Regions from separate parts of the Homo sapiens genome. Here region 2 is linked to region 1. The links come from fine-mapping of genetic effects on gene expression. A gene starts in region 1. The other region holds a variant in brackets. All regions are shown on one strand. Distances are from middle to middle.

The links. PIP is the estimated chance that this variant, and not a neighbour inherited with it, causes the effect.
Region 2: its variant is the best candidate, but not a certain one, in a credible set for the expression of ANKS1B in cerebellum (GTEx, PIP 0.57).

The regions. Positions count from the first base shown.
Region 1 is chr12:99,981,758-99,987,145 of GRCh38, forward strand. It overlaps ANKS1B (ankyrin repeat and sterile alpha motif domain containing 1B), which reads right to left and starts at 3,179. Exons shown (of 27, transcript NM_001352186.2): 1 at 2,347-3,179. The coding sequence starts at 2,480. RefSeq lists an enhancer at 2,209-3,039 and a silencer at 3,152-3,201.
Region 2 is chr12:99,409,217-99,414,604 of GRCh38, forward strand. All of the region lies in intron 11 of ANKS1B (ankyrin repeat and sterile alpha motif domain containing 1B), which reads right to left. Among named protein-coding and RNA genes, the nearest start is that of GARIN6, 240 kb to the right of the region's middle. The variant C/T (reference allele first, on the strand shown) is at 2,381.

The DNA.
Region 1 (5,388 bases):
GATGACACGTGTAAGCACTTAGCATAGGGTCTGACACCATTATTACACAACCCAGGTAATAAAGCAAGCGGGGAAAAAGTGCCAAACATATTCTACAGTTCCTTCTAAAACATTAAGAAATTTCAAAGTGTCATTATGTTTGACGGGGGACACATTTTCCATTATCCTGCCAATAAATTTCTGATGACAATCATTTTTGAAATAAAGTGACAACTAAATAAAATGTGCCTTCTTAGGAATGTCATTTTATGCAAATGATTGCCCAAAGAATACAATTTCAACTCTCATTTTCTTCAGACACTATTCAGTATAAGATGGATAAAAGCAAGTTTAAAGGTTATTGGTTTTGTTTGTGATTTTTACAACTTGGTTCGAAGTACTCTAATAAACACATGTTGTTTACTTTTGTTTTCTATGTGCAATCTTTGTTGTAGAGCTACTACTACTACTACTACACCAGCAAAAGAGAAAACCTCTCACTCAAGATATACACTGTGGGTCACTATTTTGATACTTTAGTGTCCACTAACATTAAATACTTGGTGTTTTATCCCTAAAACTTGACATCTATTCTTTAAAAAAAAAAAAAAAAATCACAGCTGGGAAAGGAGTATTTAAAGGATGTTTGCTTTTGAGTTTTGTCACAAGGAGTGTTTTTAAAATACGATTTATCACAATAAAATTAAGTGAAATTCTCACTGTTCTCAAATAATTCCTCATGTTTTCCCGAAGAAATTGTTTATTTTGAGAAAATTCTTTCAGCATACCAGTTTTTAGACATAATCATTTTTATAACTGATGGATCCACAGCAAACGTTGTTATTTTACGTGTAACTTAAAACTGTAAAGAGATAAATTGCTTTCACATAAACTACATGTGACTACAGGCAATTATTAGAGCTGCAATCTGAAATATGCACACATTGTCTACCTGTGTTTGAAAGAGAAGATTATTTAACAAGGGAGTACACACAAGTCATCTCTATGACCTATTGAAAAAATGTCCCATAAATATTCATTCTTCTGACATGAACTATCATTCCAATAAAATGTCACTGTCAACGAGTATATAGAATAACATATGGGGCTTTTTAAAATCCCATCGACTATTTTTCAACTCAATTTATTTCACTGTAATAGAAACTTTCCATTTTCCCTTTTAGCTAGCCCTATAATTAATTGCACTGTCTGACCACCACAACCTATGAGAACTTGTGTAAAGAACGCAATGTCATCACCCAAAAGTTTCTATTAAGCACTTGTCAAGGGTAGCATGGAACAGTTTTTAAAAAACCAGGGAAATCACTTGGGCTTTCTAAAATTTTTACAACTATAGTTGGGTTATCCAAGAGATGTTTTAAGGCGAAGATATGAATGACAATTGATGACTCCAAAAATACCCAGGATAAATTGGATAGCCACGATTTTAGAAACTAAAGAGCTTCCCTTGAATTGTATCTAGTGAATACTCTCCAGGCTTCCTCCCTCCCAGTTGATTTCATTTGTCCATCAATACAACTTTTAATAGTTTCTCAAGTATGGAAATCAACCCCGCTATTTCCAAGGTACTGCTGAATGAAGACCTTGACATTTTTTTTAAATGTCATCTTAGAAAGATTCTCCAAGCAATACCAGTCTCACCTACGACATCTTCACGTTAAAAGGCCTCTACCGTACTCCATATACAGTATCCCAATACCAACCTGGCATCCTTCATCCTGAGCTATAACAACCAAGTTTCACTCAGCTATGTCCAGGTAACTGAAAGTATTGCTGGGGCTGCCTAACCTGCCCCATCAAGTTTTATACACACCCTGTGCTGAAGACATCTCACCAGAAAGAAGGTTCACTCACTTCATTTTGTGGGATCATAACCCACGGCACAGCAAACGCCTTCTGCAAGAGAAGGTAGGAGCCACCGAAGGCTGTGGCTTTTGCAGGGTAATTGCATGCACGCAAGAGATTCTCTGCCAATTTCATTTAACTAGACAAAAAAGGCTGCGTTCAAAGCTGCAAATATGTAATAAATGTTGATGGAAAGCGGGCGGAACGTCGATTTTCTTCAAGCAACACTAGTACATGTACAAGTTCTGCACCAGGGCTCAGAGGAAAAGTAGCTTACTGACGCATTGATGGAAGGCTATTTTAAAATTACTCAAAGAATCTAAGGCATCAATCTGACTGGGAGGCTCATACCTCCTCTCCATACACGCAGTCTGTTTTCCTACCTAATTTAAGAATGAATCGCTGGCAGCCACCAGGTGCAATAACCGTGAGGAGGAGGACGTATATCCATCACAATGCATAATGAGGTGTGCCAACCCCGGAGCTGGTGCCCGTCCTTACCTTAGCAGATTAGACAGGGGCAGGGGTCCGGATCCACCGCCCAGGATCCCTCCTTTCCTGCCAGACAGGAGTTTCTCCACCAGAGCCACATTTCCAGTGCGAGCAGCTTCCAGCAGCTCCTGGTCCTTCCCCATAGTCTCTCACCGACTCCCCCACAGAGTCCTTGCCCCCCTCGGGTCCTCCTCCCCACCCACCCCCACTCCCCAAAATCCAGGGCCCTCTTCGCCCCACCCTAAAATAATGCAAGAGCTTCAGCACGGAGAGCTCCCTGCAGCCCCAGGCAGGGAGCACGACTCTCTCCTCCTCTTCGGGGCGCAGCTTTTACAATGGGGATCAGACCATGTCTTGAAAGAGGGGCTGGCCGAGCTGGGAGCCGCGACGCGCCCCCACAGCCACTCCCCTGAATTCCCAAGGCCTCGTTCCCGCGGGTGCGGCGTGAGGGGGTGGGGACTCGGGGGTGCTTTTGAGGAGCGGGAGGAGGGTGGTGAGGACTGAGGTCGGAGGAGGAGGAGGAGGCGGCAGAGAGAGTCCTAGCTGGAGCGGGAGCGCAGGGAACACCCGCGGTGGCAGCAGCGGCCCGCGCGCCCTCGCGCCCGACCCGGGCTCGCCTCGGCTTCCTCGGCGGTTACGCGGGGGCGGCGTCCGCGGCGGGGAGGAGCGCGGCGGCGGCGGCGGCGGCTCGTGCGCTGTGGCCCGCGCCGAGGCAGGGCGGTGGGGGGCAGCCGCAGCGGGCGCGTGCCGAGGGCGGCGGCGGCGGCGAGGCCTGGCGCGCGGGGGGCGTGTGCGCGCGGGCAGGTGCGGCCCCTGGTGCGGCCCGAGTTGGGTGGCGGGCTGGCGGGGAGGGGCCGGGCCGGCTGAGGCGGGGCTTCGGCCCTGAGATTCTCTTCGTTCTCGTGGGCGGGGACCCTCCCTCCTCCACTCTCCTTGGAAGAGCGTTAACCGTGTGAGGACTGGAGTTCCCCGGGCCGCGTCGGCTCCTCCTCGGCCCGGCGGGCCCCGGCAACACGCCTCGGGTCTGTCACGACGCCTGAGGAAAATCCTCCGTGACAGGAATGGGGAGGCTGGTGACACTGGGGAGGGGCCCTTTGGCCACCGCTTCCATCAGAGTCTAGGCAACTTGACCGGCATTTCACCCTTCCGCTTTACCTCCCCAAGAGAGCCTGAGATCTGCCCTTGGTTAGAAAGAAGAGGCTCGTTTCGTCCTAGTTTCTGTGGCACTGGCCACCGAGCAGTTTGCGACTGTTTCAGTTTTTCTGGAGTCTTTAATCAGCCCATATTTTAGTTGGGCTTTGGAGATCTGCTGACTTGTAAGAATACCAGGAAAAAGGCTCTCATTGAAAATTTATCCACATCTACACTCGAAAAATATAAATGGGCATGGATTAGAGATCCACTTTAATTTGCATATATCATCAGCAATTCATTGTGCATGGTTGGCATGACTTGTTAGATGCTCTCCTTGGCCGTGGTGGAGAACGCGCGTTTATTTTCTATTAAAACTTCCTGTTACACCTTGTGCTTTGCATTGTCCTTGGAATAGACTTCATAAATGTTCACTTGTTGATAATTGATTGGTAAGAAGAGGACTTAATAGGCACTGTGCTTACAACAACCCAGTGAACTGGATATTATTATATCCATTTTAGAAATGAGGAAATAGGGCTCAAATGGTTAATTAAATTTCTCAAGATGCCACATGGAGTAAGTGGCTGACTCAGAACTAGACCCCAGAACAGACTCACTCCAGACACCATGTGCTTCCCAATATACGTTCCTGCCCCCCATGGAAAAGCGAAATGGACAGACAATAATTATTGCATGCATTTGATGAGTAGTTGCTACATACCAGACACTATGCTAAGTGCTTTCCATGTTCTCATTAAGCCTTGCAACAATCGCATGAGATAGGACCATTTTCATCTCTATTTTGGAGATGAAGAAACTGATTACCCGCAAGATAATAGGGATAGAAAGTAACTGAGCCAAGGCTCAAATCCGGCACTGTCTGCTGTAGGCAAAGATTTTCAATAAATAACTGGGGGAAACTTAAAAGGCATTTAGAGATAAATAACAAGAGTATATTAAAACATTTTTATGGAATTCATTGTGTTCTGAGATTTCATTTCAATGATTCAAAATATTAGGTAAATTATGGCTATTTATTGGAGGTTTCCTGAAGTATGTAGATTTTGGCTAGTGTAGTTTTTTAATTCATTTTGATTTTGTTTTCTGTGTTAGAATCTGTTTTAATAAGATAATCTATGTTATAATAATATAATCCCTGACATAATGGGACTAGCAGACCAATGAAAGAAACGAGATAAGGAGCCATCACATTCATTTTGAAAATGGCATAGGGAAATCCTTCTTCCTTTTTCCTAATGTTGCCACCTAAGCAAAACACACCTTTCCCAGAATATACTGTAAGTATTCAATTGGTCAGAACTGAAAATCACCCACAGTTTTCACAAGCAACATTTAATCATGGATGAGTTGGTGACCGCAGGCCCCGAGTCATCTTATCGAAATCATGCAGCCCCCACCCCCAATGGGAAAACCATTAGTAATGATTTACTCTAAGAATCAGTTCCACAGTTCGGGCATTCTACTGACATATGATAATCAAAGCCAATTTTTCAGCTTCAAACTCTTTGGTTTTAGTGACCTCATAACTTTGTTTTTCTGTAGACATTGCAGTGACTGCACCTCATAGTTTTTTGTTGAAGAGGATAAAGGCTTTGGCTACATGGGGACTAACATGCAAAATAAAAGTGAAAACATTCTTTTAAAAATCTACAGAGGCCAAAATAAATATCCAGATCTTTTAAACATCCAGATTTCATCAAGATGTTTTGCATCTGTGAATAGTGAAAAGAGTGATAGAATCTTGGGAACCAATTAGACAATCTCTATCTCAGTGTGTGCATAAGTAAAATGAAGAAGTTATGTCGGATGCCTTCCACTGGCCTTGCCAGCCATAATATTCTATGCCTGTGATGAAACGTGGTCTTAGTCCATTAAGTCATTTGCATCACTGAAGCT
Region 2 (5,388 bases), 570 kb before region 1:
AGTCATTACGTTAAGTGAAATAAGCCAGGCACAGAAAGACAAACATTGCATGTTCTCATTTATTTGTAGGAACTAGAAAAATTAAAACAATTGAACTCACAGTGGTAGAGAGTGGAGTGATGGTTACCAGATGCTAAAAATGGTAATTTGGGTGGTGGGGGGAGTGGGAATAGTTAATGGGCTCAAAAATGTGGTTGGAATGAATAAGATCTAGTATTTGATAGCACAATATTATGACTAGAGTCAGCAATAATTTATTGTACCTTTTAAAATAACTAAAACCGTATAACTGAATTATGGGTAATACAAAGAAAGGAAAAATGCTTGAGTTGATGAACACCCCATTTACCCCAAAATGATTATTACACTGCATGCCTGTGTCAAAATATCTCATATACTCTACAAATATATATACCTACTATGTACCCCAAAAAACTAAAAATTAAAATAAAAAAGAGATATCTATGTGGAGAAATGGAATAACAGCAATGGGAGAAAAGAATAAAGAGATGGTCATAATATTAAAATGGAGATAAAAAAGAATAGGTCTAGAATATTCATTTAAACATGTTTGATTTAATATAATTTTTACTACTCAAATAGAATTGCACTCAGCCATTCAGTATAAAAAAGAAAAAGTGTTTTCACAAATTCACTGAAATTACATATTGAATTTGCCAAGCTTTGATATGTAGAATGAATTGCACTTGTGTTCGTTGTGGCTTCTCCACTTTAAAACATATCCCTCCACTGTGGTCCAGTCCTCATATCACCCTACTTTCCAGAGGACTTGCTTCTATACATATTTACTTAGCAGGAGTCAGCAAACTACATCTTATGTGCCAAAGCCAGGCTTCTGAATATTTTTGTTCAGCCTGAAAGCTAAGAATGGTTTTCACATTTTTTATCGTTTTTTAGAAAAGGAAAAATAATATTAGTAACACATGAAAATTGTATGAAACTCAAACTTCACTGTTTGAAAACAAAGTTTTATGGAGACATAGCCATGTCCATTCATTGATGTATTGTCTATGGCTGTTTTCCTGCTACAGTAGCAGAGTGTAGTAGTTGTAACGTAGACCTTATGAACGAAGACTTAACTATTTTACTCTCTGATCTTTTATAAAAAAAAAAAATTGTGACCCTTTCTATAAAGTGAATAGGAAATTTCAGCTGGGCACAGTGGTTCACGCCTGTAATCCCAGCACTTTGGGAGGCCGAGGTGGGCGGATCACGAGGTCAGGAGATCGAGACCATCCCGGCTAACACGGTGAAACCCCGTCTCTACTAAAAATACAAAAAATTAGCCGGGTGTGGTTGCAGGCTCCTGTAGTCCCAGCTACTCGGGAGGCTGAGGCAGGAGAATGGCGTGAACCTGGGAGGGGGAGCTTGCAGGGAGCCGAGATCGGGCCACTGCACTCCAGCCTGGGCAACAGGGCAAGACTCCATCTCAAACAAACAAACAAACCAACAAACAAAAGTTAACAGGAAATTTCTCTGAGGAGGTAAAGTTGAACAGACACAGGAACGACTGTGATTGAATCAGGGAACCAGTGCAACATAAAAAGGTAGGACCCCTTGTTTCAAGAGCAGGTACAAAAACTTTTTTCTTTTTCCCATGTTCTCTCTCTAGATCTGTTATGGTGTTCTTTTATTTGCTACTTAACGTATTGCTCCCTTGGTCATGGAAACACTCACAGGGTGAGGGCAGATTCTTACAGGAATGCAGTGGCTCTGCCCTGCAACTCAGTAAGTGCATCTGACCTTGACCCTTCCCCACACTCATGGTCTCACTACTGCATCAGCAGTTTCTGGGCAGGCCAGGGGCACCTGGGTTGGAGGAGCAGGTGGAAAAGAATTTTACTCAGTAAAGAAAGTAGAAATAGGGTGGAAAGTGGGAAAACAGTTAAGTCAAGATTCCAAGCCCCAACACATGTTCAATTTTCCCATAAACCGCCTTACAAAACCCTGGGCCAGGAGCACCAGGGTTGGGGGAGCTGCTAGAGTCCCCAGTGTCTACTGTTCCCATCTTTATGTCTGTGTGTACCCAATGTTTAGGTCCCACTTATTAGTAAGAATGTGTGGTATTTGGTTTTCTGTTTCTGTGTTAATTCACTCAGGATAACGGTCTCTAGCTACATTCATGCTGCTGCCAAGGACATGATTTCATTCTTCTTTATGGCTGCATAGTATTCCACAGTGTATATGTACCACATTTTCTTTATCCAATCCACTACTGATGGGCACTTAGGCTGATTCCATGTCTTCTCTATAGTGAATAGCACCGCAATAAACATATGAGTGCAGGTGTTTTTTGGTAGAAATATTTATTTTCCTTTGGGTCTATATCAACCTGGGATATTTTGTGTGATACATATGA[C/T]GAAAATATTTAATTCTAAATATTTTTTTCTCAAAATGATAGCCTACTGTCCCAATACCATTATTTATCCACTGATTTGAAATGTCACCTTTATCATATACTAAATTTCCAAATAGAGATTGGGCTTGCATTTTTGGACTCGACTATATTCCCATTGATCTATTTGTCTATTCCTGTACTAACATCACACTCTCTTACTTACTGTATGGCTTCTATTTCTAGAGCTCCTAGTGCGTGGATATTGGATCTCTTTGACCCTTCCTGTTTTATATACTGGGAGTATTCTACAGTTCATTGTCCTAAAGAACCTTCATTAATTTGCTAGGAAATACTTATTGACCATTATCAGCTGTGTGGTCAGGCGCTGTTGTAGCCTCTGGGGATACATCAATGAACAAATAAGATAAGGCACATAATTTTAGGCATTTTGTTTTAACTTTTGGTGTGATTATGCTATTTTTAATTTTAAAAACTTTTCTTTTTTTTCAAGTATTCCATTTTTAAAATAGCCTGTTATTAACTTTATAAGTTCAATCACCTCTCAAATCTTTCTGAGGATACTGATTAGAGTCTTTTTCTGGCATTAAGTCAGTTTTCTTAAAGGTTCCTTACTTTGTTCATTAAGCCTGGTTTCTCTCTTTTTGGTTGTTAATTTTTCCTCAACCATCTGGTGTCTTGGTCAAGCACTTTTTATACCTAGGGCACTGTCCCCACATTAGGAGCTTCAGGGGGTCCTTCACCTTCCTTAGATACTTATTACCATCTGGTGGGCAAACAACAAAGCTGATTGCTCCACATAGGAGATGCTAAGGTTCTGGTTGCCCTGTCCACTCCCTGGCTTTGATAACCATGCCCTGTTGCTCAGGCTTGAGATTCTTCGCAGAGGTCTAATGAGGATGTCAAATCCACTCATTGTTCCAGTGACATCTTCCCCTCTTCCACCAGTGTTGGATGGTGGGCTTTTTCCTCTTGTTTTGTCTAAATCTAGCAATATTTGATTTTATCTTTTAGAATTTCGCAAATGCCTCAGGTAGTAACTCTCCCTGTTTTTCATCACTGCTATGAATTTATTGTTAATTTTGTATTTATTTTTACCATTTTGATTGCAAGTAAGGAGGAGGAAAATGTAAACACTTGCGATCCACTCAGCTTTATCAGTTAGAATTCTCATATTTCTCTGTCTTGATCACTTTGAAGACTGTATATAAGAGATTTGAGGAAGTCTGGACAACTCGAAGAAAGTAAGTATCATTGCCATTTCATCACAGATGTCATGCAAATGGAAAATTATTATATTTTCTTGATTTTTCAATAAATGGAAAACAATTTTAAGTGAAGTACAATTTTTTGGTTGTTATGAATATGATGTTAATGTGATCAAGACTTGCTCTAAAGATGTAGAACTCCTTATCTTCAGGTAGGCAAATGCAATTCTTCTGCTTTATAGATTATGGCCAAACATAGACAAAAAATATATGATCACCACAAGGGAGTTAAAGAAGTCGTGAGTGAGTATTGAGTATTTAAGAGACGTGGACATTCTTCTAGGCACTTGAAATTTGTTGTCTCATTGAAGCCTATAATGTTAGTATCAAAAGTAGCTATTACTCTTTCCATTTTATAGACTTGAGATTCACAGATAATCTCAGTTAAGTGGGAGAGCTGAAATTAAAGTTAAGTGGGAGAGATGAAATTAAAATTAAGCGGGAGAGATGAAATTAAAACACAAATCTAGTGAATTTCAAATTGATTGCATTTTCCCCGAAAGACACCACACTATAGGTAAAGCAAAGAGAAGCAAACATATTTACAAGTAAAGCCAAGAGCCTAATAACTCTTGAGTTTCTCATCTTTATATCAACGCACAATTTTCCTACTCTTCAGTCTATTGGTAGCATTGATTTTTTTAAAAATCTACATTGTTTCAAAAGCTGTTGAAATAAAACGCAAGTGGGTGGAAAATGGGAATAAATAGTATCTAATTCTGCTATGCATTAAACTCTTACAGTCACTACATTTTTTATAAGAGAAAGGCAGAAAATTTTTAAAAATCTTTATATCTCCTGACTTTAGCTCTTCATTTCATTTTTATATAGAGGTATCTGACTATGAAATAATATGCATACTCATCTTCTATTTAAAAAGACAAATTATAAAACAGACTGTAGGGACTCTGTACTGCTTCTCAGACACTGCAATCCCACATAGGAGCAAGGTCAGATTTACTGATACAGGCAACTGTCCAAAGCAGCTCTTCTCCTGCTAGCTGTTGATGTTCTCTTCCTCTCTGCCAGCTCCATAACAAGGGCCCTCACCCGGTGCACCACCCTCGCCCACACACACACCCTGACCGAGGCCCTGAGAGTTCCAGGTTCCTGCACCTGCCTTTCCTGCCCAGGGCTTTTTGAGAACAGACAGTTGCTCTCAAGCCCAGGGCTTTCTGAGAGCAGACAGTTGCTCTTGAGCCCTTCTCTGAGGTCCTCTGAACACCCCTACTCCACCATCAATCAGAGCAGTTATACTTTTTTTTTTTGCTTTTACCTATTAGGTTTCTGTTAGGTTGAAACATATGAAACTGCTGATATTCAACCGTATTACCTGCAAAAATAGCAATTTCATATAACTCAGCCTACATAAACTTTTCTTTTAACAGAGTTCTCTGGCTAAATAATTTGAAAACCATTTCTCTAGGCCTTAAGTGAGCCTGACATTTTGCTGGCCCCAGTAAAATTGAACTCTTTCCCTTCTTAGACATCACTAGTAAGAGTATAAAGACACATGCACATGTATGTTTATTGCAGCACTATTCACAATAGCAAAGACTTGGAACCAACCCAAATGTCCATCAATAATAGACTGGATAAAGAAAATGTGGCACAGATACACCATGGAATACTATGCAGCCATAAAAAGGATGAGTTCATGTCCTTTGCAGGGACATGGATGAAGCTGGAAACCATCATTCTCAGCAAACTAACACAGGAACAGAAAACCAAACACCACATGTT